Linked DNA regions of Homo sapiens. The protein of the gene in region 4 purifies or fractionates together with the protein of the main gene of each other region. This does not show direct contact. Each region holds a gene or a part of one and is shown on either strand. Other genes may lie near its edges. The genes, in order: TRIM68, COL14A1, AMD1 and PRELP.

Evidence for each region.
Region 1: the proteins of PRELP (region 4) and TRIM68 purify together in Homo sapiens (affinity purification with mass spectrometry; 4 studies listed by BioGRID and IntAct, with this or other methods). This does not show direct contact.
Region 2: the proteins of PRELP (region 4) and COL14A1 purify together in Homo sapiens (affinity purification with mass spectrometry; 3 studies listed by BioGRID and IntAct, with this or other methods). This does not show direct contact.
Region 3: the proteins of PRELP (region 4) and AMD1 purify together in Homo sapiens (affinity purification with mass spectrometry; 3 studies listed by BioGRID and IntAct, with this or other methods). This does not show direct contact.

What each region holds. Positions count from the first base shown.
Region 1 is NC_000011.10:4,598,219-4,605,242, forward strand, and holds the end of TRIM68 (E3 ubiquitin-protein ligase TRIM68), read right to left. Parts: coding exon 6,861-7,024; intron 5,123-6,860; coding exon 5,027-5,122; intron 4,195-5,026; coding exon 3,934-4,194; intron 3,469-3,933; coding exon 3,446-3,468; intron 2,910-3,445; coding exon 2,809-2,909; intron 2,609-2,808; coding exon 2,058-2,608; 3' UTR 454-2,057; downstream 1-453. UniProt on the Homo sapiens protein: Functions as a ubiquitin E3 ligase. Acts as a coactivator of androgen receptor (AR) depending on its ubiquitin ligase activity.
Region 2 is NC_000008.11:120,128,098-120,135,121, reverse strand, and holds part of COL14A1 (collagen alpha-1(XIV) chain isoform 1 precursor), read right to left. Parts: intron 1-7,024. UniProt on the Homo sapiens protein: Plays an adhesive role by integrating collagen bundles. It is probably associated with the surface of interstitial collagen fibrils via COL1.
Region 3 is NC_000006.12:110,877,783-110,884,806, forward strand, and holds part of AMD1 (S-adenosylmethionine decarboxylase proenzyme), read left to right. Parts: intron 1-7,024.
Region 4 is NC_000001.11:203,470,835-203,478,814, reverse strand, and holds the start of PRELP (prolargin precursor), read right to left. Parts: upstream 3,010-7,980; 5' UTR 2,877-3,009; intron 1-2,876. UniProt on the Homo sapiens protein: May anchor basement membranes to the underlying connective tissue.

The DNA.
Region 1 (7,024 bases), on a different chromosome or scaffold from region 4:
ATGTGGATTGTTTAACCTTACGAGTCTTCTAACAAGTAATCAGAGTACCCAAACAGGCTTATAAATGTAAAAAACAATCAAACCAACCAAAAAGAGTACATTACAAATGAGGCCATTTCATTCCTTCCTTCATTCTAAGTTCGAATGAATTTATCAGCTAACAATCCTCCGTTTCTAGGAACCTTCCAAGATTTGTCTTAATAGCCAAAGAACAACATTGATTTTCCCTTAACCCTTTTGTCCCAATTGTCCACAGACAGAACTGAAGTCCTTCCTAGGGACCTACTTCTCAGTTACCCCCAGGGAATCCCCTGACAAAGATGCTCCTCTAATTGAGGCAGGCTCAACCCTTGGCCAGCACCAGGGTCTGTGCCTCACTAGCTCATTCCCCTCCAGGCAGCTGATGGAAACTTCTCCCCTTCTACTACTGATTCTCAAGAAGCAGTCTGGAAGCATGGTGGACAGAATGCGTTTATTTCTCCAGTTTGGCCTATTTTAACTCCTACATACATGAACAGCCAATACAATTAAAGTAGAAACACAATTTTTAATATTCCTTATCACAGCCATTTGAAGCTCCTTTCTGCCCAAAAGGTCTAGACTGCCAGCAGAGGCCCTGAGACAAAGGCACTGCTATAAGATGCAGACTGTATCATGGCACAGTGGGAAAGTCACCATGTGCAAAATCCACGGCTTGCCTGCCTCTATGCCTCAGACAGGAACAAATCATGGGATGGATCTGGGATCTATACAACAGCTCCATGAGGCAGGACAATCATATGAGGTTTTATGCTGAATTACACCCATTTTCCCAATGAGGACACATAAAACCTCCCAAACATGTGAGAAGTTTCAGACCCAAATATAATAAGTGATGTATAGGCATGTGACCTGCGAAGTGAGTTTGTCAACCTTGTTTCACTTGAGTGTGAAAAATGCTTTATAATTTTGATAATCTTACCTTCAGCAGCTTTGTAAGAAATAACTTGCTCCAGGGGCCGGGCGCAGTGGCTCATGCCTCTAATCCCAGCACTGTGGGAGGCTGAGGAGGGCGGATCATGAGGTCAGGAGATCGAGACCATCCTAGCTAACATGGTGAAACTCCGTCTCTACTAAAAATACAAAAAAATGAGCCAGGCGTCGTGGTGGGCGCCTGTAGTCCCAGCTACTCGGGAAGCTGAGGCAGGAGAATGGCGTGAACCCAGGAGGCAGAGCCTGCAGTGAGCCGAGATCGTGCCACTGCACTCCAGCCTGGGCAACAGAGTGAGACTCCGTGTCAAAAAAAAAGAAATAACTTGCTCCCTTAAGGCCATTTCAGTTTCCTCATTCATAAAGTGAAAATACAAACTAAAGCTCGCAGGTTTTCTGATCCTGCCACTTAGAGAAAAAAGGCAAGACTAGGACACTGGTCTCCTGGAGTCCAAGGGACAGTGATTTGCCCAGCTTGTGCTCAGAGAGGGAACGGCAGTGGGGTGGCTTGGGCAGGTCTGTGTCCCCCTGCTGCACTGAATTTCTCTTGCCAGGAGGTCAGAAGGTGAGAGTCACATAAAGGTTGCTTAGTTATAGCAAACCTCAGGGGAAGCATCCTCTGACTGGCCTCAGCACAACAACCAGCTCTGGGTATGCGCAGCATTTTTTTGGCCTATTGGGAAAGCCCATCTAATGGTGTCCTGAAGACTGTATCTACTTCATCATCCTCACTGACTGAACTGTGACACCGGACGGGAATCAGGGAAGAGGGTGGTTGGCTACTACATGGACAAAGTCCTGATCCTTACCCCAACGAGTCACCTTAGAACTGCTCTGATCCTCACCATCAGCCCTGTCGTGCTTCCCTCATGGGATGCAATGCTCATTTGACTGGGCCTCTGCTTTTTAAAATAAGTGGTTTCATGACAGACTTCAGCCTGGTAGCAAAGACCAAAGGATCAGACAGAGGAATCCTTGGATACTGGGCTCAGCTCAGTTTCAGGGGATACCTGTCAGTGGCTCGGTCCTCCAAGCCCCATGGGGGCCAGGCCCAATTCCAAGCCTCTCTGGTTAGGGTGGTAGCTTTCTTAGTCCTCCCCATCCAGGGAGCAGATGGCCAGAGGAGCAGTGTTGTTGGTTCCAATGCTGTAGCAAGGACTAAAATAGGGCAGGAGGCGCCCAGGGAAGGGATAGCGGGGGAAAGTGAAGATGTGGGAGCCACAGTCAGTCACATTGTAGAAAGAAATGTCATGGGCCTCATAATCCACGAAGATTCCCACCCGGCGAGGAGGGACCGGCAAGGACAGGATTGGGTACTCATCGGTGCCTGCTCGGTACTCATTTCCCTTCCTCAGCCTTATCACCCAGAATCCATAGTGGGGGGATAAGTAGACCACCTCCTTCCGGTCTACATTTTGCTTACATACTCCCAGGCCCCACTCAGACCTGTCTCCCACCTCCACCTCCCAGTAGTGCCGGCCTGAGGAGATGCACTGGCTTCCCAGGACGATATTATAGCGGTAAAATCTCTCAGGATTGTCTGGCAGTTTCTGGTTGGTGTCTCCATAGTGCACACGTTTTCTGTCCTCAGACACGATGAGACGGGAGTAAGCAGTATCTGGATCCAAGCGCACATCAGCTAGAAGAAAAGGTCCTGGTTGGTAACAGTGATATAGGGCCAGGGGACATGGGTGAGAGCCCTCTGATAAATTCAGCCACAGATTTCTCAATGATGAAGGGGTGAGGCTGGATGGAGCACCCAGAGGGCACTGAACCATTTTCTATCTCTGGGAGGGGTCCCTCCCACTGTCCACTACAGTCTCCCCCAGGATCCATTACCTGCATAAGTCTTCAGGATCTCTCTTAGCCCCAGCACACGGCAATCTGTCTTCAACTCCAGGGAGATTGGTTCTGGCTGCTGCAAGCTCCAAGATTTGCTCCTGGTAGAGGAGGGTGAACCTCAGGGCCAGGAGTCCCGGCTTTGTCACATGGGCCTTATCTTAGTACAGGGAAGAGGGGCTTGGCCAGGGACATAGTGAACCCCAGCAAAGCAGAGACATGATGGTTACGGTTATTTGGCTGAGCCTCAAGCTGTTTGTGTGCAGAGGTGAGAACACCTGCATGCCCATGCTATGGGAAGGGTTGGATGTATATTTGATTCTGGGAGAGGAAGAAGTGCACACATTTTCTGTCGGACATGAAGGAGTCATGGGCAGTCTTTTATCCTCTTTGAGCAATCTACTTGAAACCACATATTTTACAGCTTCACTTGATATACATTTGATCAAGTACAAAGAAGAAAAAGGAAAGATCAACAAAGATTCCTTAGCCATTACCATGTAAGTGGGACGAGACTGTGGACCAGCACCTGCTTTTCTGTGTGCACCGAGTCTGTGCTCCGTCCCTACTTCTGGCTCTAGTTAGGCCTCACTATCCCCTACAGGGCTGCTTAGAGGCTCCAAGGGTGAGAACATACCTGTTTAACACTTCCTGAATATCCTGGAAGGAGAAAAAAAAATGCAGCATCTGAGTAAGTGCTATTCCTCAGAGGGAACAGACATCGAACTGGCAGGGAGTTTCTCTAGGGGAAGGGAGACAGATACCAAGAATGGAGAGATGCCATGCAGAGGTAAGGAGAAGCCTATGGAAGGATGGAAGAGCAGGCTGAGCTTTGGCTGAACTGGCCAATTTCAGGCTCCATCTCAAGACTCTCGGGCTAGAGGAGAGGGCCTGGAATGACGCCAGAGCTGCCTGAGCACTGCCCCACCTATGATGCTACAACAGACCAGGTCATCCACCAGCCAGGGATAGGGAAACAGCAGGTATTAGCTGGGGAAACACAGGATCCATGACCAGCTGGCAGAGGGCTGGCAGTCCCTACTGAAGGGTAACTGATGCTCTCTCCTGGAGTCTCAGTCTATCTTCAGCTGTCACTCAGGGTTACCAGGAAAACCTACTACTCACCTGCAACATCCAGCGGACAGGCCTCTGCGACCTCTCTTTCAACTCTGCAATCATCCTCCACAGGACCTGGCTCTGCTGGATGAGCTCGCTATGGTTCAACTCCAGTTTCTGCATGGTCTCCGCTGCCTCCCGCTGTAGGCTGGCCAGAGCTGCTGCTACCTCTGCCCCCAGCTGCCGATGTGGTGGCTGCTTTTTCTCTAGTAATCGCTGGTATTTTTCAAACTCCCATACAATACTCTGTTTTCGGGTTTCCACCTGTATCTGTGGAGCCAAGATGGAAATCAGCACTGATACTTTCAGTCACCCAGTATCGAGCATACTGACATATGCATACACACATACTCTGCAATGGTACCAACCACGTGACAGGCTATGCAGGGGCAAAGATAAAGGATACTATTTTTCCTAGCTTCCTGTTCTCCCAGCTCCACCACATGCTTCTAGGTCTCTATTGTCACTCTTATTGACTCCAGTAGGGTCCAGGATATTATCTTAATACTACATGCTCTAGACTATTTTCCATTTTCAGAATAATGACAAGATGTGTTACATTTAAGTCTCTAAGGCAGTGTAACTTAACTACACTGTTAGGTGGTTCATTTTCATGTTGATATTATATCTGTTCAACATGCTGTTTTAGATTGGTTCAGTGTTACTTTCTGTTGATCAAAAGTTCTAGTAGTTTGATACTTACTGGCCTCAAATTTATTTCAGAGGTGATTTTACAATATTTTAATAACCAGACTCTTAGCAAATATTCTCTAACTTGGGAAAATGAAAGAGAAACTCTGCTTTACAAGCATGATATAAGCCATGCCACTGTGAGCTGACACACGTGAGCATGTGCTTTTCCTTTCTCATATAGGAGGATACAAGACCAGAGGTTATCCCTACATCCCCATGGAGAAACTGGAATTAAGAGGTGACGTGGCCTACCTAAGGCCTGGGACAGAGAAAGCAGGGATTAGAACCCTAGGCTCTGTGATTTCAAGCCTCACATTCTGCCTCACAGTGATGAGAATGCTACCCTAGGCCAGCTCCAGGACCACACAGGACGACTGACACAAACTCCTTTCCCCACGAGGCAACCTGCCTTCCAGGTGGCAGTTCGTTTCCTTTCACCAACTTCAAGCTTCCAGGCCTCTTCTTGCTCTTTCTTCAGATGTTCGAGGGCCTCATGAAGTTCCCACTGCAAGAGACAAAACCCTCATGAGGCCACCTCCGGCAGCCTAGGCTTCCTAGCACTGGGAGGCTATGGGAGAACCAGAGTCCTTCAGGCAACCGGCCACAGTGAAGGCTGTGGGGAAAGGGAATGCCACAGAGGAAGCAGACTCTGCCCAGATGACATCCGAGGTAGCTCTCTGGGCTGAGAATCATTTCAACTCCCACAGTCTCTAAATGTCTGTAAACTGGAAGAAAAGGTCCATTTACAACCTCTCCACAAAAGTACCTTGGACTTTCCTTTCCATGCCAATTTTTATCCTTATCTTATTTATTTTTATCTTACTGTCTGCCAGAACCTTGTTACTCCAAATGTGGTTCAAGTGGATCAGCAGCATCCACATCACCTAGGAGCTTGTTAGAAATGCAGAATCTTGGCCTTACTTTAGACCTACCAAATGAGAATCTCAATTTTAGATGGATCTCCCAGGTGGTTCATATGCTTATTAAGGGTAAGAAGCACTTTCCTAGAATAGTAATGCAAGGGATTTCTACTGAAAAGCATAAACTGTGCAGAAACACCATTTAATTCTGCTATTTTAACAAAATAGCAACTATTTTGTTAAAATATATCAAGTGTCAGGTATATTTTCAGCTCTAAATATGCATGTGATACTTACAATCCTCTGAGGCTGGTATTAACCTTATTTTATAGACAAGAAAACTGAGGCTTAGAGGGTGACCTACCCAAAGTCATTCAGGTAATAAATGGTTGGGCTGGGATTTCATCCAGCCCTTTACCCCTATGTTATACTAGCTCCCTTTTCTAATAGTCTCAAAAACAGAATGAGTTAGTAAATACTTTTCATATTTTAGAAATCCCTCCCATATAGGAAAAAAGCTAATTCAGGGGATTTGTCTTACACTCTCACCTTCCTATTTCAACTCCAAAAAAGAGAGTTGAGACCAATGCTGGATCACTGGATCACAGAATCACTGAGATAATGGTTCCGATAAAGATGTCATTATGGGCATCTGATGAAAGAGTAAAGAGAAGCCCAGAAGCTGGAAGTTGATGAGGTTAGCTACAAAAAAGGAGTCCCAGGTTTGTCAGAGATGACTTGTCAAACAAACAAACTTGGGAGAGGAGAAAGTGCAAGAAGACTTGAGTCACAGCCTCTGATCTTCCTTTCACTAACTGGACCTGAAGTCAGAAAGGACCTGAGAAGACTATATCAGATGACCTCTCTCAATCTTGTGACTCACCCATAGTTCTTTCCACCTCTAAAATAAATTGCCATGTTTTCAACTTTCTAAGCCTCACTTTTGTCTATAAAATGAAGGAGGGAAGTGATCCATTCAATGCCAAATGACTACTTGCAGCACTGCTAGGAGGAGTTTGCAGGTCAGGTGTAGCCTTGACCATCTATATAAGAGCCTCATGCCTAAACTCATCCAAGGCATCCAGAATCTCAGTTAAAACCCAAACTGTTTTCCTTCACATTCTCATTACTGAAATCAGCCTTGGGTTAGGAATTGAGCCCTGTTAGGATGTAGGTGTAGAGGAAGTGGGAGAGCAGGAAATCAAGGAAGGTCATGAATACAAGGAAAGGTATAGCTCTCTGTATCAGATTCCAGGGATCTCTGGGTGTCAGGAACCAAAGGAGTTAGCTCTCAGTCTGTGGTGCTGGTGGTCAAGCCCTTGATCTAGAAACAGCCAACTTGGGGCCGGGGTTAGACTGGAGTGGCCAGCTTCCATCTCTCACCTTGTACTCCCAGGCAACATCCTCCATTGGCACAACACTGTGGGCCTCATGCTCTGGGGACTGGCTGCAGGCCTCACACATTATCAAGACATCCTCTTTGCAGAACATCTTCAGCTTTTCCCCATGGCGCTCACACAGGTCACCCTTCAGCCCCATTCCTGGAT
Region 2 (7,024 bases), on a different chromosome or scaffold from region 4:
ATATAACATCACCATGGCTAAAAGTATGACTGCACATCTTTCATTTACTTAAGCTGTCTTTTGTTCGGTGAACTCTCTAGCATATCCTTGGTCATTTTTCTATAGGATTGTTCATCTGTTTTTTGTTTGTTTGTTTGTTTTTTGTGATGGAATCTCACTTACTCTGTCACCCAGGCTGGAGTGCAGTGGTGCAATCTTGGCTCGCTGCAATTTCCACCTCCCAGGTTCAAGCAATTCTCATGCCTCAGCCTCCCAAATAGCTGGGATTACAGGCATGCACCACCATACCCAACTGTTTTTTGTATTTTTAGTAGAGACAGGGTTTCGCCATGTTGGCCAGGCTGGTCTCGAACTCCTGACCTCAAGTGATCTGACTTCCTCGGCCTCCCAAAGTGCTGGGATTACAAGCGTGAGCCACCACACTCAGCTAGGAGTGTTCATCTTTTTATGAGAAATTTTTGTATTTAATATGTGGCTCTTTTTCCATCATATATGATAAAACACGTTGCCCAATATTTATTTTTTTTCTTTTTTATCTCCTATGGTTTATGACATGCATATAAGTCTCTTTCTCCTTTGGAATTATAGCATTTTCCTATATTTTCTTTTAGTATTCTTACATTTTCAATTTTTAAATTGAAATCTTTGATCATCTAAAACTTATTTTGATGTAAATGAAAAAGTTTTAACTTTTATTCTCCATGTCTATCCAATTAGTCCAATACCACTTATAGAATAATTTACCTTTTGATCACAGGTTAACAATGCTATATTTTATTTTCGAATCTATCGATTTTCTATTTATGTGTGACTATTAAGTAATTGTAAATATCAAAACTTTATAATATGTTTTAATATTTTCTTTTAAGTTTTCTTTCTGATTATTTTTGACTAGGTACCAAAAACTCCTCAAAATTGGGATCATGTTAAATTAGTAGACCAATTTAGGTAGATCGACCTTTTTTATACAATAGTCCATCTTTACATCAAAAAAGAATATATTCTTTGTTTATTCAAGCCAGTCATCTTCATTTCTTCATGAGCACTTTAAAGAGTTATATAAATTTGACATTTTGAGTTTATTTCTACATATTATATACATATATGTTTTATTTCCTGTTAATGGATTTTTCTTAATCACTTTTAAACAAGTTGTTTATTAATTATAGTAAAGCAATTTTATTTTTATATTAATTTTGTAACCTACCTTGAATAGTTTAACATTTTTTCAAAGTCTTAAAGTTTGTAAAATTGATTTCCTTAATTTTTTCTGTAGATGATATCTTTCTTCTTACCTTCCAAATTTTATGTTTTTCATTTCTTTCCCTTTTCTTATTACTTTGGCTACTATCTCCAGAATATTTATCCTGGAAACTTTGTCTTGTTCTTATTTTTAATAGCAATGCTTCTTTGGCATGACTTTGATTTTGAAGACACATGGCTAGACAGACTGTTAGAGAAGACAAACACAAATATACTGATATAAATGTATCATGTTTAGTAAATTTCCATCTGTGTAAACTTTATTGAGCTATTAATCTGAAATAAAATGTTAAATTATTGTAGTAGTTATGAAGAATATCCTCTAACTTTTTTCTCTTAACTTTTTAACATGACAATTATATTAATCCATTTTCTAATACTAAACTTACCTGTAAAATTTGAGCCCAACTTGATCATTGTGAATTATTCTTTTGGGTTCTATTTACTAATATGCTATTCATATCAATAAGTACATCAATATTAGTGAAATTAATCTGTAGCTTTTCTTTTTTATTATGCTGTGTCAAGTTTTGATATCAGTATTATTTTTTCCAGTTTTATAAAAAATAACAGAATTTTTTCTTCTTTCTCTATACTGTACTTTGGAACAGTTATTTTTTTTTTTTTTATTTTTTTTTTGTTTGAGACGGAGTTTCGCTCTGTCGCCCAGGCTGGAGTGCAGTGGCGCGATCTCAACTCACTGCAAGCTCCGCCTCCCGGGTTCACGCCATTCTCCTGCCTCAGCCTCCTGTGTAGCTGGGACTACAGGCACGCGCCACCATGCCTGGCTAATTTTTGTATTTTTAGTAGAGACGGGGTTTCACCGTGTTAGCCAGGATGGTCTCGATCTCCTGACCTCGTGATCCGCCCGTCTCGGCCTCCCAAAGTGCTGGGATTACAGGCGTGAGCCACCGCGCCCGGCCGGAACAGTTATAATAGCACGGTATTTTTATTTTTTTACATTTTCATTAGCATTCAATTGCAAAACCATGGGGAGAGTTCAGTACTCTTGGAGAGGTTACTTTTTAACAACTTTTTCAACATGTTTGTGTCTAATGTTTTATTCATAATTCCTGTATAATAAAAAATCAGTTTTAGTAATTTGTACTTTGTTTAAAAATAACTCATTTCATATCATTAAAATAAGAATACTGCCCAAAACACAGCCTGGGTGACAGAACAAGACTCTGTTTCAAAGAGAAAAAAAAGAACGTTACCCAAAACAATATCCAGGTTCAATGTTATTGCTATCAAACTACCTACATCATTTTTCACAGAAATAGAAAAAAAAAAAATTCTAAACAAAACCAAAAAAGAGCCTCAATAGCCAAAGCAATTCTAAGCAAAAAGAACAAAATTGAAGGCATCAAATTATCCAACTTCAAACTCTACTACAAGGCTACAGTAACCAAAAAAGCATGGTACTGGTACAAAAACAAACACACAGAAAACGGAACAGGTTAGAAAACACAGAAATAAAGTCACACACCTACAACCACCTGATCTTTAACAATGTCAACAAAAACAAGCAATGGGGAAAGGACTACCTCTTCAATAAATGGTGTTGGAATAGCTGGCTAGCTGTATGCAGAAGAATGAAATGGGACTCCTACCTTTCACCATATATGAAAATTAACTCAAAATAGATTAAAGGCTTAAATGTAAGATCTAACATTATAAAAAAATCCTAGAAGAAAACCTAGCAAATATCGGCTGGGCACAGTGGCTCATGCCTGTAATCCCAGCACTTTGGGAGGCCAAAGCGGGTGGATCATGAGGTCAGGAGATCAAGACCATCCTGGCTAACACAGTGAAACCTCATCTCTACTAAAAATATAAAAAATTATCTGGGCATGGTGGGGCATATGCCTGTAATCCCAACTACTAGAGAGGCTGGGGCAGGAGAATCGCCTGAACCCAGGAGGCAGAGGTTGCAGTGAGCCGAGATAGCGCCACTGCACTCCAGCCTTGGTGACAGAGCAAGACTCTGTCTCAAAAAAAAAAAAAAAAAAAAAAAAAAGAAAGGAAGAAAAAAGGAAGAAAACCTAGCAAATACCATTCCAGACACAGGCTTTGGCAGTGAATCTATGACTAAGTCCTCAAATCAACTGCAACAGAAACAAAAATTGACAAGTGGGATCTAATTAAACTAAAGAGCTTCTGAATAGCAAAAGAAACTATCAAGAGAGTAAATAGACAATCTACAGAATAGGAGAAAGTATTTGCAAAGTATGGACCCAACAAAGGTCTGATATCCAGAATCTATAATGAACTTAAATTATTCAACAAGCAAAAAACAAATAACCCTATTAAAAATGTAGGCAAAGGGCATGAGCGGATATTTCTCAAAAGAAGACATACAAGCAGCCAACAAACATGAAAAAATGCTCCACATTGCTAATCATCAGAAAGATGCAAATCAAAATCACATTGAGATACTATCTCACACCAATCAGAATGGCTATCATTAAAAAGTCAAAAAAAAAAAAACAGATTTGCAGAGAAAAGGAAATGCTTATACACTGTTGGTAGGAATGTAAATTGGTTCAGCCACTGTGGAAAGCAGTTTGGAGATTTCACAAAGAACTTAAAAAACTACCGTTCAACTCAGTAATCCCACTAATGGATATATACGCAAAGGAATATAAATAATTCTACCAAAAAGACACATGCACTCCTATGTTCATCACAGCACTCTTCACAATAACAAAGATGTGAAATCAACCTAGATGCTCATCAATGGTGGACTGGATAAAGAAAATGTGGTACATATACACCATGGAATACTACACAGCCATAACAAAGAACAAAATCATGTCCTTTGCGGCAACATGGATGCAGCTGGAGGCCATTATCCTAAGTGAATTAACAGAGGAACAGAAAACCAAGTACCACATATTCTCACTTATAAGTAGGAGCTAAACAGTACACATGGACATAAAGATGAGAAAACAGACAGTGGGGACTAATAGCGAGGGAAGGAAAAAAAAGGGGGTGAGGGTTGAAGAACTACCTTTTGGGTACTATGCTCACTACCTGGGTGATGGGATCATTCATACCCTAAACTTCAGCATGACACATATACCTATGTCATAAACCTGTTCTTGTATCCCCAAACTTAAAATAAAAGTTGGAAAAAAAAGAATCCATTTCATCCAGGCTTTCTAATTTATTGGCATATTTTTATTTTAATTACCATTAAATTCTTTTAATTTTCTCCAAGTTAGTGATGTTTCCATTTTACATTTCTTTCCTTGTACACGTAGGCTTTCTTTATTTTGCTTTTTAAAAGACAAAAAGCTGAATAAAATGCACAGTGATTTTTGTTTAAGAGAGAAATATCAAATGGAAGGGGAAAGCAACAGTAAAGTAGGAATAAGGGAAGGAAGAAGAAAAGGGAAAATGATGAAGAGGAAGAAGATGAGGAGGCAGAGGAAACAAAGAAAAAATAAGGGGAAAAGAGAGAAAAGAAAACAGTATAAAGGCAGAAAGGATACAAGATGACCTATCTGGCCAAATGTGGGCCAATGTTGCCTAGATTGGTGCTACTCAAAGTAGCTGGTCTATGAACTGTTACTGGTCCTCAGTGAGATAAGGAGCTTATGCCAATATGCAAGTCTATGTATTCTTTTGCTTCCTTCGTCAGAAAAGCTTTGCTATGAAAAAATAATGATAATCTCCGTTGAACTAACAGTGTGCTTGGTGAACAGTGCGCTTATTGACATATTTGATTTACATCATCGTGTAGTTTTTGTCTTATCAGAGGCAGGTAACAGTTTGTGGATGGGCACCAACCAGCAGTAGCACCAAACTTGATCCTTCACCAACCAGGCCTCTGATGAACTGCATCTGTCCCTCATCTTATTGAGGTTCTCCAGCTAGTTTCATGGCCTCAGTCACTGTTTTAACCTTCTAGATCTTGGGCACTATCAGACATCTAGATGGGCAGTTTAACCCATATTCAAGAAAGTTCAACACACATAGGCAATCAGTAAATATTGATTGATTTAATAGTTAATGACTGAATGATCAGGGCTAATGTGTGTACAGCTCGCAGTTAATGAACTAAACAATTTACACTTCGCCTAGGGTCAATGACACTTGAAATTGGCAGACACTCTGCTCCCAAGTTGTGTGCCCCAGTGCAAAGCTGTGTTATCCAGATAAAACAGAACTGTTTTCTTCTCCCATGCCATAGGTTTGCACAGAGAGGCTTCCTTTTTCTAATTTACAGAAAAACTATATTAGGTTAGCAGCATCCCTGTGAATCACTCAAACGCAAGGAATTTGACTGAAAATTAGCCTCAGTTATACAGCTGCTCAATCAGTATTAAACTCATGCTGTATGTTCTAAATGACAGAAGGTAGAGCCATTCCAAAAGTATGGCAAATTGGAATGACAGCTGCTTGACACAAGAATGTTCTTCACCTGGCTTTTTTTCCCTCTCTTCATTTTTTTCAAACACTGACATAGTTCATCTGTCAAAGAAATGGGAGACTGTTTTTAACTACAATGTACATCTGTAATCAGTATAAAGGGTAGCTTTACATCTCAGTTTAGACATCCTTTCCTTCAGGAAGTTTTCCTTGATCTTCCAAGTCTGGGGTCAGGTGCTCTTCCTGTTTCCTATAGTAGTAATCTTTATTTTCCATTCTGCAGCATTGAACACTACCCCGTAGTTAGCTATTGGCATTTCCATTTGCCAAAGCATATTATTCCCTACTGTATTTTGAATGCTTAGCACAGTGCCAGCACATGGCAGGAGACAGGGCTGGGAAGTGAAGGAAGAACAGAAGCAAACAACCTGCAGCAAATTATCATTTTTAGACATCAATTAAATGTTCTCCTCTTTGCAAAAGCCAGAGACAAAAGGCCACCCAGAAATAGATCTTTATCCAATAATGGGCCCTCTGACTGCTCCTAGATAAAGACACACCCTAAGACATTGCAATGGACTTAGCAAAGCACAACCTACCTCTGGACCAATTTTTGTAAGCAACTCAGATAATTTCTAGGAGAAATGAGGCAAAACATTGCTCTCTAAAATTCACAGAGACACCTTTCAGGGTAGCTCCGACAAAGGCCCATAGAGAGAAAAGTGCAACAAGACCACTAATAAAAAAATTACCTGGAGGAAACGGGGAGTCTAGGCTCTAAACTTTGACTTAAAGAACGCTCAGAATTTCCTATAGACTCTCTTTTATATTCTCAATGCCCGCCTCAGCCTCCCAAGTATCTAGGATTACAGGTGCCCACCACCACGCCCAGCTAATCTTTATATTTTTAGTAGAGATGGGGTTTTGCCATGTTGGCCATGCTGGCCTTGAACTCTTGACCTCAGGTGATCCTCCCAAAATGCTGGGATTACAGGCATGAGCCACTGTGCCTGGCCCCATATAGACTTTTCTTAATCATATTTCTGTCACTTGCTGTCTTTGTGATCCCATACAAGGTGCTTTTTATCCTTGAAGCTCAGTGATTGCTAAAGGAGGAATATTATTTTCTTCCCCAAGTAACTGGGAGACTTAAGTGTGTTTCTAAAAGAGAAAAAGGCAGATACCCAGTAAGTACTCAAAAAATATGCCAACATTTCCAACACACACACACACACACACACACACACACACACGCGCGCGCACACACACACACACACGTCACAGGAACAGGATGCAGTTTGGTCTACAACAAAAGCTTAGTGTATACAGAAAAGTAACTGGATCCCTGCCATTTTTTATTTACTCACAGAAGAAGTCAAGGAGA
Region 3 (7,024 bases), on a different chromosome or scaffold from region 4:
ACTGCAGCCTTGACCTCCTGGGCTCTATTAAGATGTGAATAAACTAAAAGTAGGTTAAAAGATGAACAGATGGAATTAAACAAATCTGTTTATAAAGCATAATAAACATAGGGACATAAAAACGATTAAGAGAATGAAAGGCTTAAATGTCCAAAGAGAGCATTAGTATTGATGCTAAAGACAAGGATAACAAGATAAGGATATGAGGGAGAAAAAAATCCTGGAAAAATAGCTTTCCAAAACTAATGCAAGAAGAAATGGAGAACCCAAAACAGTCCTAGAACACCTAAATAACTTGAATCAGTCAATCATCTAGGCCCAGATGATTTCACTGGAGTGTTCTGTATAATTCAAGGGAGAAAATATCCAACTTTTTTCACGCATTCTTCTGGGAAACAACATACTTCCCTCGGTTTTCTCATCCCAAAGTCTGAAATATTTTTTTCTCCTACACGATATTTACCTTTCATATTTAGATCTGCAATCCATCTGGAATTGATTTTGTGTGTGGTGTGAGGGAATACACTTTAAACAAACTTGGCTCATCAGTCCAAGCTTTAATGCTTGGAATCTTTTCTGAATGTACACCTTTTTACTAAACACTGCTTCCCTCTTGTAGACCATTTAAGATATTTTATCTTAAGTGAACAAATTATGTAATACTGAGAAATTTAACAAAGAAAAATCTTTTATGATATAGCTTGGGTTAAACAATACTGTTGGAGAAAAGCAGCAGTCCAGGTATATCCAGATGAATAAAGGACAATTAAGGGAGAGGCGGTTTCTTAGGGGTAACCTGCAGTTTTCTCTGATTTTTCAGATTTTACGGATGTTGAATAAAAATCAGTGACCATTTAAAAAATGGTTTAGTTGTTGGATCAAAGTGCTGTAACAAACAAAAGCTTTTTATAAGACATGGCAGCTTTAGGGAGGGTGAGAGTAGTAAGAAGGAAATCTGTTAGAAAATAGAAAATTTTGCTGAGAAAAGAATGATTTTTCAGGACTGGAAATCCTATTACTGTGCTTTACTCAGATTTTATAAACTAAAACATAATTTTTAGTAAAGGATTGGGGCAGTTGTAAAGATAGTCATACCTCAGCTTAACTTTCCCCAAACTCATGACTTATTTGACTACATCATTATGCAGCATTATTGCAATATCAATAATTTACATTGAAGGAATTTACAACCCGTTGCCAAAAAACCTTTTAGTGTAATGTTTCAGAGTAGAAATGCTTCCTGCTAAAGAATAAAGCTTCTCGTTACATTCCTCCCAGCAGTTTCAAAAAGGTTTCATGGCTGGGCTTGGTGGCTCATGTCTAATCCCAGCACTCTGAGAGACCAAGGAGTTTGAGAGCCCAGTCTGGGCAACATAGTGAAATCCTGACTCTACAAAAAAAATTGAAAAATTATCTGTGCGTGCTGGTCCATCCTGGTGCGTGTCTGCATCCCAGCCACTCGGGAAGCTGAGGTGGGAGGATTTTTTTGAGCCATTGGGGGATCGAGGCTGCAGCGAAATGAGATTGCACCAGTGCGCTCCATCTGGTGGCAGAGTGAAACCCTCTCAACAACAACGAAAATATTTCAACTGTTGTTTACAAACCATGTATCTTTAAGAAGCACATGTTGAAAGTAGCAGAAAACTGAGAGGAGTATCCCGATTTGGGGTAAAAATTTGAGATAGAGAAACAATAATGTGATGATAATAGGTTCATATCTTTGAACAAAAGGGAGGAGGCTTATTTCTCAGGTTATCTGAATTCACTGCCGCAGGAAGGCACCCTCAGAATCTAACTTCTGGTCAGTCTAGCTTTACTCAAGAATGATCTGGTTTTAGGATGCCTTTTACCTAAAGACTGCTTACTACCTGGGGTAGAGGCACCCTGATGAATGTACTGTAATGAGAGCCTCTAAAACAGACCTAAAAATATGAGGTAAGAGCAGAATTGAGAAGCTGCAGTGACTTTGGATAAATTACCTGAACTCTGAAACCAGCTGGTTTTACATTAGGAAGTAATGAGTAATCTAATGACCTGGAAGCTTTTCAAATAAAAATTTGCAGGCATCATCCTCAGAAAGTGTCTGACCTAACTGGGTATGGGAATAGCATCTATGTATTGAGTTTTCAGGTGATTAGAGCATAACCCTGCACTAATGGGATCCTTCTGTATTTAAGTTCTTGGTCTTTTTTTTTTTTGGACAGTCTCAGTCACCCAGGTTCGAGTGCAGTGGTGCCATCTCAGCTCACTGCAACCTCCGCCTCCCAGGTTCAAATGATTCTCCTGCCTCAGCCTCCCTAATAGTGGGTACTACAGGTATGCACCACGATGCCTGGCTAATTTTTGTATTTTTAGTAAAAGACAGGGTTTCGCCATGTTGGCTAGGCTGGTCTTGAACTCCTGACTTCAAGTGATTGAGCCATCGCCCCTGGTCCCTTTGTCCATTTTTTAATCACTTTTTGTTGAGTTGTGTGTAGGTGTGTCTTTTGCTTTGGATATTGACCCCTTATGAGGTGACTTGCAAGTATTTTATTCTGTAGGTTGTCTTTTCACTCGTTTCTTTTGATGTATAGAAATGTTTACATTTTAGGTTTTCAAGTTCCATTTGTCTGTTTTTGATTTTATTGTATGTCATATCCAAGAAATCATTGCCAAATGTAATGCCCTGAAGCATTTACCCTATGTATTCTTCTAGGAGTTTTATTCGCTGTTAATGTTTAGGTTGTTGATCCATTTTGAGTTAATTTTTGTTTATGATGTAAGGTAAAAGTCCAACTTAATTTTGTTTGCATGTGGACATCCATTTTTTCCCAGCACTATTTGTGGAAGCGATGTTTTTCCCTGTTATGTAGGCTTGGGACTCTTGTTCAAGATAGTTGAGCTCAGTCATTTACTTCTTTTTTTGAGACACGCTTGTCTTGCTCTGTCTCCCAGGCTGAAGTGCAGTGGTGTGATTTTTGGTGCACTGTAGCCTCCGCCTCCTGGGTTCAAGTGATTCTCCTGCCTCAGCCTCACGAGTAGCTGGGACTACAAGCCTGCGCCACCACACCTGGCTAATTTTGGTATTTTTACTAGAGGCGGGTTTCGCTATGTTGGTCAGGCTGGTCTTGAACTCCTGACCTCAAGTGATCCGCCTGCCTCGGGCTCCCAAAATGCATTTAATCAGGCGACATAGAGAAGTCTTGTTATAATATAATTATCTTGTCCCTGTAGACATTTCTAAATTCTATTTTTATTAGACCTCAGCCTCTAAGAAAATGTTTTAAATATAAAATGTGGCATGCCACTAAAGTGTTGTTTTTCAGACATACAATTTGTGTGCTGTTATTAATATAGAACATCTATTTTTCTTTGGGATCATTTATCATGATCTCTGATTATATTTAATATTTTAGTATCTAGTCTTTAAGTGAAATTAGGGTATCTCAACCTCAGCATTCTTGACATTTTGATTCAGATAATTCACTGTTGTCAATGACTATCCTGTTAATTATACCGTGTGTAGCAGTGTCCCTGGCCTCTATCCACTGCATGCTGGCAACACCACCACCACCCCAGTTGTGATAAAAAATGTCTCCAAATGTTGCCACATGTCTTCTGGGTGGCAAAATTACTACAAGTTGAGAACCACTGAGTTAGATCAGAGAGGTGGCATTTAAGATGAGAAAAAGGAATTCAAATCAGGAAATACTCAATCTACATATTTCTTTGTGTTTTATAACCACCTAAGAATTGTGTGCTTCGGGCCAGGCATGGTGGTGCATGCCTGTAATCCCAAATCCCAGCACTTTGGGAGGCCGAGGCGGGTGGATTGCTTGAGGTCAGGAGTTCGAGACCAGCCTGGCCAGCATGGTGAAACACCTTCTCTACTAAAAATACAAAAAAAAAATTAGCCTGACATGGTGGCAGATGCCTGTAATCAGTCCCAACTACTCGGGAGGCTGGGGCAGGAGACTTGCTTGAACCTGGGAGGCGGAGTTTGCAGTGAGCTGATAGCATACCACTGCACTCCAGCCTAGGTGACAGAACAAGACTGCATCTCAAAAAAAAAAAAAATTGTGTGCTTGAATAGCTTTATAATAATTTCTAATGACTAGATCAGTATTACGTGAGCTGTAATGTGAACAAATCCCAAAATCATCTTGCTATCTTGCTTCTCTTGATTCTGCTTTATATCCATCAATTTGATTTATTGACTCTTTAAATAGCAAGGATTGCCAAATAGATCAGTTTTATAAATAGTTTATAATAGACTAGTGCTTCAAAGTCTCAGTTTGTAGTGTACTTGGGAGTGAAGCAGAGACAAGACCACTATCACTACTGAGCCTGATAAAACATTCTAGCTTAATACTATCTTTTCTATTTTTGACACACAGTCTCACTCTGTCGCCCAGGCTGGTGTGCAGTGGCACGATCTTGGCTCACTGCAACCTAATTTTAAAAATGGCTCTGTCGACTGTATAAAGCACTTTGTCTTTTCCATCATTAATTTGATCAGAAAGCAGACCACTGAAAACCTTTCCTCCAAAACAAGAGTCAGCAAACTTTCTGTAAAGGACTAGGGAGTAAATTTTAAATTTTGCAAGGCAGACAGTCTGTTGCAATTACTCAGCTCTGCCCTTATAGGGAGAAAATAACCATAGTCAATGTATAAATGAATGGGTGTGGCTAGGTTCCAGTAGAGCTTTATTTACAAAAGCAGGCCATTTTTTCCCACAGAAATGTGATAGAAATAATTTGTGCTGAAATTTTCAGCTGTTGCAGAGTTTTTCACCTCTTTTATGTACATGTATAGCATTGTATTGACTACTTTTTTCTTTCGTCTATTTTGCCCTCTGATTTATTTTTCTTGAGCTTAGTAGCTCTGGTAAATGCCTTTATCATCACTAGGTTGATAGACAGTTTAACTGTTTGTCCTAGGTTGCTTAAAGTAATTGCTTTCTTTTGATACTATGATTGAAAAATTCTGATTACCGGAGCATTACTATTAGTTGAGGAAAGGTTTGAATGGAGAATTTTATTAACTGATGATGAGTGAGTATAAGAGCATTTTGAAGCCAATGGGTTGGCACGTGCCTATAATCCTAGCACTTTGGGAAGCTGAGATGGGAGGATCTCATTAGCCCAGGAGTTTGAGACCAACCTGGGCAACATAGGGAGACCTCATCTCTACAAAACAATTAAAAATATATTAGTAAGGTGTAGTGATACATGCCCTGTGGTCCCAGCTACTTGGGAGGCTGAGGTGGGAGGATCTCTTTGAGCATGGGAGGCCAAGGCTGCAGTGAGCTGTGATTGTGCCATTGTTCTCCAGCCTGGGTGACAGTGAGACTGGCTCAGAAAACAAAAGGTTATTTCTCTGCCATTACAGAAGAAGCATGCTACACTGTCTTCTCTTATTAAAATGCAATTAATAAACCCTGGACAGAATGCATTGTTGAGCAGCTATCCAAGGACTCTGAGAAGTAAATTTTAGCAGGTGAAATGGAGAAGAAAGCCAGAACTTTAAATTCCACTGAACCAGCAGTGAATTTCCTGTTTTTTTTCCCCTGTGGTATCTCCTCGCTGATTTCTCCTGGGCTTGCCAGAAACCCAGAACTGAAAAGTAGGGGCAGGCAAAAATAGTTCCAAGAAAGGCTCTCTAGTTCTCCTCTGCAAAGAAAGAATGAGAGGCCCCTTTGAATCAGAGTGGAAGAAATCTCTTTTTTGCTTTTGTTTTGTTCTATTCTGCCCCAATCCTCTTGTAGGCCTTTAGCAGCTGTGGCAGTTAGGCAGATGTCTAAAACAACGAGAGAAGGGAATCATTTTTTGTTTGTTGTTTGTTTTTGAGACAGAGTCTTGCTCTGTAGCCAGGGCTGGAGTGCAGTGACACGATCTCGGCTCACTGCAAGCTCCGCCTTCCGGGTTCATGCCATTCTCCCGCCGCAGCCACCCAAGTAGCTGGGACTACAGGTGCCCGCCACCATGCCCAGCTAATTTTTTTTTTTTTTATTTTTAGTAGAGACGGGGTTTCACCTTGTTAGCCAGGATGGTCTTGATCTCCTGACCTTGTGATCCTCCTGCCTCCCAGAGTGCTGGGATTACAGGCGTGAGCCACTGCGCCCGGCCAAAGCCCTATTTTTATAGGTAGTGGATGAAGAAGAGTCCTTCCCCTATCCCCTATGTGAGTCAGGCATTGTCAGAGAGATTATGGAAGGTTGAAGAAAGTAAACCTATAAAGTTTTATATGAACACTCCTTAGCCATTTTGCATGGATCTGACCCTAAACAGCACATCAGAGGCTTTGAAAACTAGAATACACAATAGACTGCCTCTCCAGGGCCAGCCTGGCCATTGGGTGGCAAATAAGTGGGGCAGATGCAAATAACATAGCAAAGGAGTTCATAACAAACCTGACACTGGAACCATAACACAACCTAGAAACATTGAGTAAAAACTTGAAGCCTAAACCAAACCAGATTGTCTGCTGAAAGTTTTTAAAAATCAAGACCTAGAATGATGTAACATGTCAAAATATCCAGGATGCCATCCTAAATTAGTCAACATACTCAAAACCAGGAAAATCTTAACATCTCAAAGGAAAAGACAGCAGACACCAACCTCAAGGTGACATGGACCAAGACTTTAAAGTATCTGTGCTACAAGTTGTAAGGGTGAATACTTTGTTTTAAGAGAGGGTCTTGCTCTGTTACCCTGGCTGGAGTGTAGCGGTGTGATCATGGTTCACTGCACCCTCCATCTCCTGGGCTCAAGCAAACTTCCCACATCAGCCTACCGAGTAGCTGGGACTACAGACCTGCACCACCACTCCCAGCTGCCTTTTTTCTTTTTAAGAGACTGGCTATTGCTATGTTGCCCAGGCTGGTCTTGAACTTCTGGTCTCGTGATCCTTCCTTCTTGGCCTCTGAACCACAGTGCCTGGCCACAACAGCCTTTAAAAAAAGAGAAAACAAAAATAAGAAAGGAAAAGACTGTTACACTGTTTAGTTCAGCCATGGAACGTGTTTAAAAGTCTTAATAGAAA
Region 4 (7,980 bases):
GCCTTATGGGGGCATGATGACTTCAAGATGCCCCTTTCTAGGAAGGTGAAACGATACAAGGATGAGCTTGCCTGGGGCAGTGGGAGGAGAGCCTGTGGTGCATACTAGTTAGGAGAGAAGATTCTCACCCCTCCACCACTACCTAGTGATGCGAACCCTGTTCTGGGCCTCAGTTTTCTTATCTGTAAAATGGGAATAAAAAAATCTTCCCTATACCTATATTCCTTACCCAATTGTCAGAAGCAAGTGCAGTTAGCAGCTTTAAAATGCACTACAGATCAAAAAGTGCTAAAAATAAAAATAACACTATTATGGAGAGACCATCTGTCTCCCCAGTGTCTACCACAAGGCAAAGTGTAAACAGAATGAAGATTTTCTGGCCTCAGGCCACTAGTTTAGAAGAGAAAGTTTTCCATTCTGAGCGGTGGGGAAGAAACCAGGGTGAGACGACTCTTCTCTGACAGCCCGCCACCTACCATATCCTCTGCCCCATTCCCCCAGCATCTCCAAGCCTTGAAGAAAGCCTAGAAGAGTGTGTCTGATGCCTTGAGTGATTATAGATCTGAGACCCAATCCTGCAGTTCTTCATTCAGATGCTTAGCTAGGTAGGCTTAGGCAAAGCAATTGCTTTTCTGCTCTATAAAATGGGGATACTAACACCTTCTTTTCTGTTTTGAGGGTTAAATGAGTTAATACATGCAAAGTGAGTGTTTTCTGAATGTTAAGGTCTTGTTGATATTATTTCAAAGTAATGGGGTCTCCTTCCCTCCAGCCTGGCTAGAGGGCAGCCCCCATGCACTGCTCGAAGGCAGGGATCCTTGTGAGTGGGGTACCAGCTCTTCCACACAGAGCAACTTCCTCCCCTTTGTGGCTTGTGAGATCACACTTGGGTCTCAGAAACAACTAACTGAGGAGACTCTGGAAGTCCCCAGCCACCTAGGGAAAGCTTGTTCTGTCTTTCTAATTCACCAACTTCTCACCGATGCTTTCTGCAACAGGTGAGGGGACACTGGCCACAGAAGGTGCAAGTCTGCCTTCCTCAGTGGGCCATGGAGTTCCACTGCGATTCTTGACTTCTCCCAGCTTTTTGCCCCTTCCAGCCTTGAAATGCTTCACTCACATGCCCAATAAATGGGATTGCCCACTAGGGAGGTGGAGGGGGCATGAAGAAAGTGTTCAGCTCACCCTCTGTGAGAGCCCAGACAGGTGGCTGCTGGGAAGGAGGAGCAGGGACCTATAAGGGTCAGGGGAAGGGCCCAGCACATGCTCCTGGGGTCCTGGGGCAGGCAGATTAACAGGTGAGGGGAAACAGAAGCTCTGTGGAGCCATCTTGGGGGAACTTTCTTACTGGAATGTTCCTCTGTGGTATATATGGCTGCTTGTGCTTGCAAGGAGGAGAGAGGGAGACAGCTCTTCCCTGTTTACTCCCACTCCCCAAAAAAGAGGTGGCCTATTTGGGACACTCTGGTGCTCCTTTTCCAGGACACAGTCCTTCTGCCCAGCTAACACTGCCGGAGTCTTGGGCTTAAAAATTACAGCAAAGCTCTCTCTCAGGCCCCTGATTCTCGAGCCCTGGTGGACCATCAGAATCTCCTGAAGTATTAAAACAAGATTCCTGGGTCTCGATTCAGTAGATCTGCAGTGAGAGCCGACATCTGTATTTTTAGTAAGCCCTCCACACTCCTCCCTCTCCAGCCCTTAGGTGACTGTGAAGATCAGCTGTGTGTGGGACCCCTGATCTCCCTACACCCCGCCTGCCTTGGGACAGACCCTCTCTATTAATAGAGAGGAATGAGCAGGGGAGCAGGAGAGGGGCCGCCCTTCAGTTTTCCCCTCCCCAACTGCTTAAGGAACTGCTGCCTTTTTTTTTTTTTCTCCTCTGCCACAGGACCTTTTGCCAACCTAAATGGTTGGAATAATTTCAGAACGGCTTTAAAGAAAAATATTTTTCTGGCTGCCTGCAGGAAAAAAAAATAAAAAAATGAACTGTCCCCAGAGCTGGGAATTAGGACCTTCAAGGATTGGGAACTGGGTCGCTTTCTTCTTTCTTTCCAAAAGCCAAGTGGTTTGGACCAGTGAGACAGAAATTGAAAGCTGCTGAGAAGACACTGTGCAGGTTGGAAAAAGCCGTTTTTCTCTCCCTCCTACCCAGTGAAGCCCTAAATAATGAAGAAACCCTTCCAGCTCCCGCTCTTGCTTATCTCCTCCCTATTCGGCCTGGACTTGGGATGCAAGATTTTCTTCTGGCTCTGCCATCTCAGTGGGAAAACGTACTTTATCTTTGCTCTTACAGCTAGGGAGGTGTGTGTGAGAGGGCGAGAGACAAGATGCAGGGAACATGTGTGCATGCATGTGTGTGTGTGTCTGCTGGTGTCTGGTGATGATGTGGTCTAGCTCTGCATGTCAGATGCAGAGGGCAGAGGTGAATGGACAGGATGTCTTCATTTTGTATGGTCGTGTGGGGTGATGGTAGTGAACGTGCAGCCTCCGTGTGATGTGTGTGACTTCCACAATGTGTGACAATACACAAAAGGTGCAAAGAAATGGGTTCTGGAGTCCAGTTTCTATGGAAACACCTGATCTGTAGAAACACTTTGTGCAGCGTGGCTCTCTGTGCTACAACAAACATCTGCAGCAGGAAAGCTTAACTTTTGCAGTAAGCAAATATAGGGGTACAGAGTGATGAAAAGAAAAGGAAGAGGCTATAGGAAAGAAGTTAGGAAGACTAAATTTGAACTCATTTGAGAGGAGAAAGAGGTGGGAGGAAGGAAGGAGTGAGAGGATAGAGACTAGATCAATAAATGGACAGAGCTGGAGGAAACTTACTGGATGAAAGATTCTTCCCAGTCTCCTGCCCATCTCCCAACTGGGCTTACCTGCACACACCTGCCTCTCCTCTCAGCTCTGAGTTTAGTCCTCCTCTTCCACCCCCTCCCTTCGGCGGAGCTGTGGCAGCAGAGAGCCAGCTAGAAGATCTGATCTCCCAGTGGTGTGTGCGTGCTTGTGTTTGCCTGACTTTTCTTCCACCAGATCCTATTGGGGTGGGGAGGTTAGCTTGGGGGGAGGGAGGGGCAGATCATAGGGAGGGAGGGGAGGAGAGGAGGGAGGAGGGAGGGAGGGGAGGGGAGGAGAGAGGGAGGGAGCTTGGGAAAGGAGGAATGACAATAAAGTCTTTATTTGGCAGCCAAAACTCCCAAAGACTTCATCCACACACCATTCCCACTAACAGACTCATTTTTAATAACATTTCCTTCTGCTGCTGCCGCTTCTGGAGAGGGGTTGTTTGACCCATGTTTGGAAAACAAGCCAAATTAACAGAGTGAAAAGGCATGAAAAGCAACCTCTGTGTAAGCCAGGACTGGATGGCTGGGTCCAGCACTAGCCTGTTTAATTCCTCCTAACAATCGCCTTGCCTTCTGGGGCCGTTGCTCGGTAGTGTTAAATTCCTAAACCAGTGAGGGGTTTGGGATGCTTCCTCTGAGCAGTGACAGTCTTTCCCTAAGTTATCTTCTCCAGGAGGTTGCAAAGGGAGTGGAGTCTCAGGCTGGCATAGGAGATAACTTCGGTTTGGCTGCCAGGGCTGTTCTGAGAACCAGAGAGGGAGAAGTCTGGCCTGAGTTGCACAGCAAAGTTAAGGCAGAATTAAGATTTAATGTAAGACCTAAAGTCACTGTTCCTAGCTCATGTGGACAATGTAGTGGCTTCTTTCAGCTTCTCCATATCACACTTAGGTGAGATTTAGGGGCTGTGTGGTCATCACACAAAGTGATGGGAAATCCAAATTTCCCCTGTGCACATCAACACCCCAGAAGACCCAGTCAAGTAACACCACTACCTCTAACAATCCTCTAACAATGCCCCTCAATTAAGAAAGCACAACACACTTGCAGGTAAGTAGATGCCCATCAAAATTTCCTGCCATGGCCAGGCACAGTGGCTCACGCCTGTAATCCCAGTACTGTGGGAGGCAGAGGCAGGCGGATCACCTGAGGTCAGGAGTTTGAGGCCAACCTGGCCAACATGGTGAAACCCTGTCTGTACTAAAAATACAAAAAAATTAGCTGGGTGTGGTGGCGGGCATCTGTAGTCCCAGCTACTAGGGAGGCTGAGGCAGGAGAATTGCTTGAACCTGGGAGGCAAAGCTTGCAGTGAGCCAAGATCGTGCCACTGCACTCCAGCCTGGGCAACAAGAGCGTGACTCTGTCTCAAAAAATAAATAAGTAAATAAAATAAATAAATTCCTGCCATCCCAGCTGACTACTTAGAAAATGCAACGCAATTTTCTTCTCCATTATTGGTTCCATGGAGAGCTGCAGAGCCCCATGACAGGGGACTGCCTGCCTGCCCTCCGCAATATGGGGTAGAGGAGAGAACATTAAAATTAGGGTCTGCAGCCCTGGGCTCAGCCACCCACAAGCTATGGTCTTAGGTGAATCACTTGATCATGAGGACCTTCAGTTTCCTCATTTACAAAATATGGATAATATTGACCTCACAGGGTTGGGAAGATTAAATATTGTAAATGTGAGAGCACTTTATAAACTGGGAAGATATTAGGGTTTAGGAAAGGGATTGCGATGAATGGTAATTAGCCTAAGAAAAGGAGAAGGAAAAATAAAACCCAGACCTTTCTCCAACCCCCTTCCACCCCAGATCTCATGGCTTCACGCCCTGCTGGTGAGGTCTTGCTGGAAGACAGCACGGTTCCTCTCCAGGTTCACATTAACTGTGGCTCTGCCAGGCTGCTCATGTGCTTCATTTCTCATCCAGATGGGATATGGCGTCTTCTGCAGGCCGGGAACATCAGACGCCAGATTTGCTTGTTTCCCTTGGTATGGTGGGTGGTAGATGATAGAGGGCAAAAAAGACTGGCTGGGCACGGAGACTCATGTCTGTAATCCCAGCACTATGGGAGACGAAGGCAGAAGATTAATGGAGCCCAGGAGTTCGAGACCAGCCTGGGCCATATGGGGGGACCCTGTTTGTACAAATAATTTAAAAATTAGCTGGGTGTGGTGGTGTGTACCTGAAGTCCCAGCTACTTAGGAGACTGAGGTGAGAGGATTATTTGAGGCCAGGAGACCAAGGCTGTAATGAGCTATGATTACGCCAGTGCCCTCCAGCCTGGGTCACAGAGCAAGACCCTGTCTCAAAAAATAATAAGGTGAGCAAAGTACAGTGAGGTACAGGGATGATGGGTAGAGTGTCTGTGGGGATAGACAGACTGGAAGGAGTGTGGAGTATGGGCAGGGGCAGGGGTGTCACCTGTATCCATTTGTATGACAGCCATCCAAATCCCAAGAGTCTATGCTCTCGGGAATGGATGGCCAACTTCCAAGCCCTGCCTAAGCCAGTTATCTCCCTTCCTCCCTCTCCTATCTCCCGCATCCCACGCTATGCAGAGAGAATTGGAAAGAAGTATAGACATGGCCAGCAGGATATTCAGGAGTGTCCAGAATAGAGTTTGCTAATCAGTGGCTTGTGGACCTAATATGGCTTGAGTACCTAATTTTTTTTGACAGCACGTTAATTTTTTAAAAGTTTTGTGGAAATTTTAAAACGTATACATATTTACACAGTATAGTATTAATATCCCCATTATCTAATACCTAGCTTCAACAATTACCGACTCATGGCCAATCTTGTTTCTTCTGTGTTCCCCACTCCCACAAACCCTACTGGTATATTTTGAAGCATTGGTTAAAAAAAAAAAAAAGGATTTGAACACCTTTAGTCAGGACAAGCACTTCCCAGTTCAACACAGTCGCCATCCTGGTAGACAGGGGTCCAGGTTCTTGGGACCTGGCTTTGCCCCATTGCATGCTGTGTGACCTTGAAGATGTCTCTCTCCCTCTCTGACCTCAGTTTGCCATTTATAAAACACGAGGTTGTACCAAATGACCTCTCAGTGCTCTTCCAACAATACTGTGAAGAGAGAGTATAAGGTTTGGGGTTAGGAAACCTGGATTAAGATGTCAACTCTGCTGTTCTCTAGCTACCTGGTGAGTAGGTCTCAGCACACGAGCCTTGGTTTTCTCATCTGCCCCATCTCCCTCCCAGGGTATACCCAAGATAACACAAGGATCATTGGCAGCAATGGCAGGGGAGTATTTTGTGATTCACTGGCTTCATGCACCCTGGGACTATGTGGATCCTCCAGGAAGAGCCTCCTCTACTCTCCTAGAGTCTCAGGGACACCAGTGGTGTGTCTTCAACCCAGGGGAGGTATTTATCTCTTGCTGGTGTAGCCAGAGAACAGTCACAGGCACATGATGTGAATGCTGGGGCATATGGTGAGAAGTCCAGATATGCACATTGTTGCTGCTACTGCTGCCTGGTCCTAGGAGAGGGCTAGGGGCAGCATGGTTAGGAGACAGAATGCAGGGAGGGCCAGGCAGCAGAGGGAGGGGGCTCTCCAAGTTGGTGGGTTTCAGCTGCATTTGCAGAGTTGGGACCTGCCCACACTTCCCATCCAGACCGAAATCCATCTGGGGGGCTTACCATTTCTTTGACCCTCACAGTAATTGCTGCCTTGGTTACAAGCAGTGAGTGCTTAAAGCAAGAGAAGAAAGGACACAATTGTGTAATACTCTTTCCATAGAAGTACAGGAGGGAGGTACTCAAGCTTCCCACCTCCCCCGTGGTGGTCCTGAGACTTTGCCGGGAAGGAGCAGTGTGGGCCCGAAGAGTTTGGCTCAAACTGCTCAGTGGTCATCAGGACCCACAGAGGCTGGCCCTGGACGGACCCTCACCCTGTACTAGTTGAGGCTCCCAGTCCAGGGTGGGTGGGGTCTGGGCAAATGCATAACGGGGGAGAAGCTGTGTGAGTCCTGTGGCAGCCTGTCCCACCCTCCAGCCTGGGGGGCCTGGGTTGCCTGGGGTGAGTGGGCCCCTGCTGGGCAGAGACAGCATCCTGTTCATCATGGTATAACCCACAGCACCCACCAACGGCTTGGCACACCCTGGGTGCTCAGTAGGGGTCTGTTTCATTGAATTTAAGAGGGTTGAACAAGGAGATTCTCTGTCACCCTCTTTTTTTAAAAAAAGGTTATTATTTTTTGAATAGGTAATACATTCTCTTGATTGAAAATCTAAGAGGTATAAGAGCTTGCATAGGGAAAAAGTCTTTTCCCTTGCCTATCCCCTCATCACTCACTTTCCCCCAGAGGACCGTGCGCCAGTTTCTTGTGTCCTCACAGATTTATTTAAGGTACACACTAGTAACAAATAAGCAGCTATGCACTTTTATTTTCACTTAGTGGTACAGGTATCTTTTGAAGATGATCATATTGGTCCTTTTGGTGATTCTTTCTCTGCCCCCACCCCCCAATATTTATTTAGTTGACAGTCTCTCTTGGTGAACATTTGGGCTCCTCTTTTTTTTTTTTTTTTTTTTTTTTGTGACAGAGTCTCCCTCTTGTCGCCAGGCTGGTGTGCAATGGTGCAATCTCGGCTCACTGCAATCTCTGTCTCCAGGGTTCAAGTGATTCTCCTGTCTCAGCCTCCCGAGTAGCTGGGATTACAGGTGCCCGCCACCAAACCCGGCTAATTTTTGTATTTTTAGTAGAGAAGGGGCTTCACCATGTTGACCAGGCTGGTCTTGGCCTCGAACTCCTGACCTCAGGTAATCTTCCTCCCTTGGCCTCCCAAAGTGCTGGGATTACAGGAGTGAGCCACCTCACCGGCCTGGGCTCCTCATTTTTTTTTTTTTTTTTTTTTTTTTGAGATGGAGTCTCACTCTGTCGCCCAGGCTAGAGTGCAGTGGCACAATCTTGGCTCACTTCGAGCTCCGCCTCCTGGATTCACGCCATTCTCCGGCTTAGCCTCCCAAGTAGCTGGGACTACAGGCGCCCGCCACCACGCCTGGCTAATTTTTTGTATTTTTTAGTAGAGACGGGGTTTCACCATGTTAGCCAGGATGGAGACCTCCTCATTTTTAAGGTAGGCAGTGCTGGAGTTGGAGTCTCACAAACTTGGTTG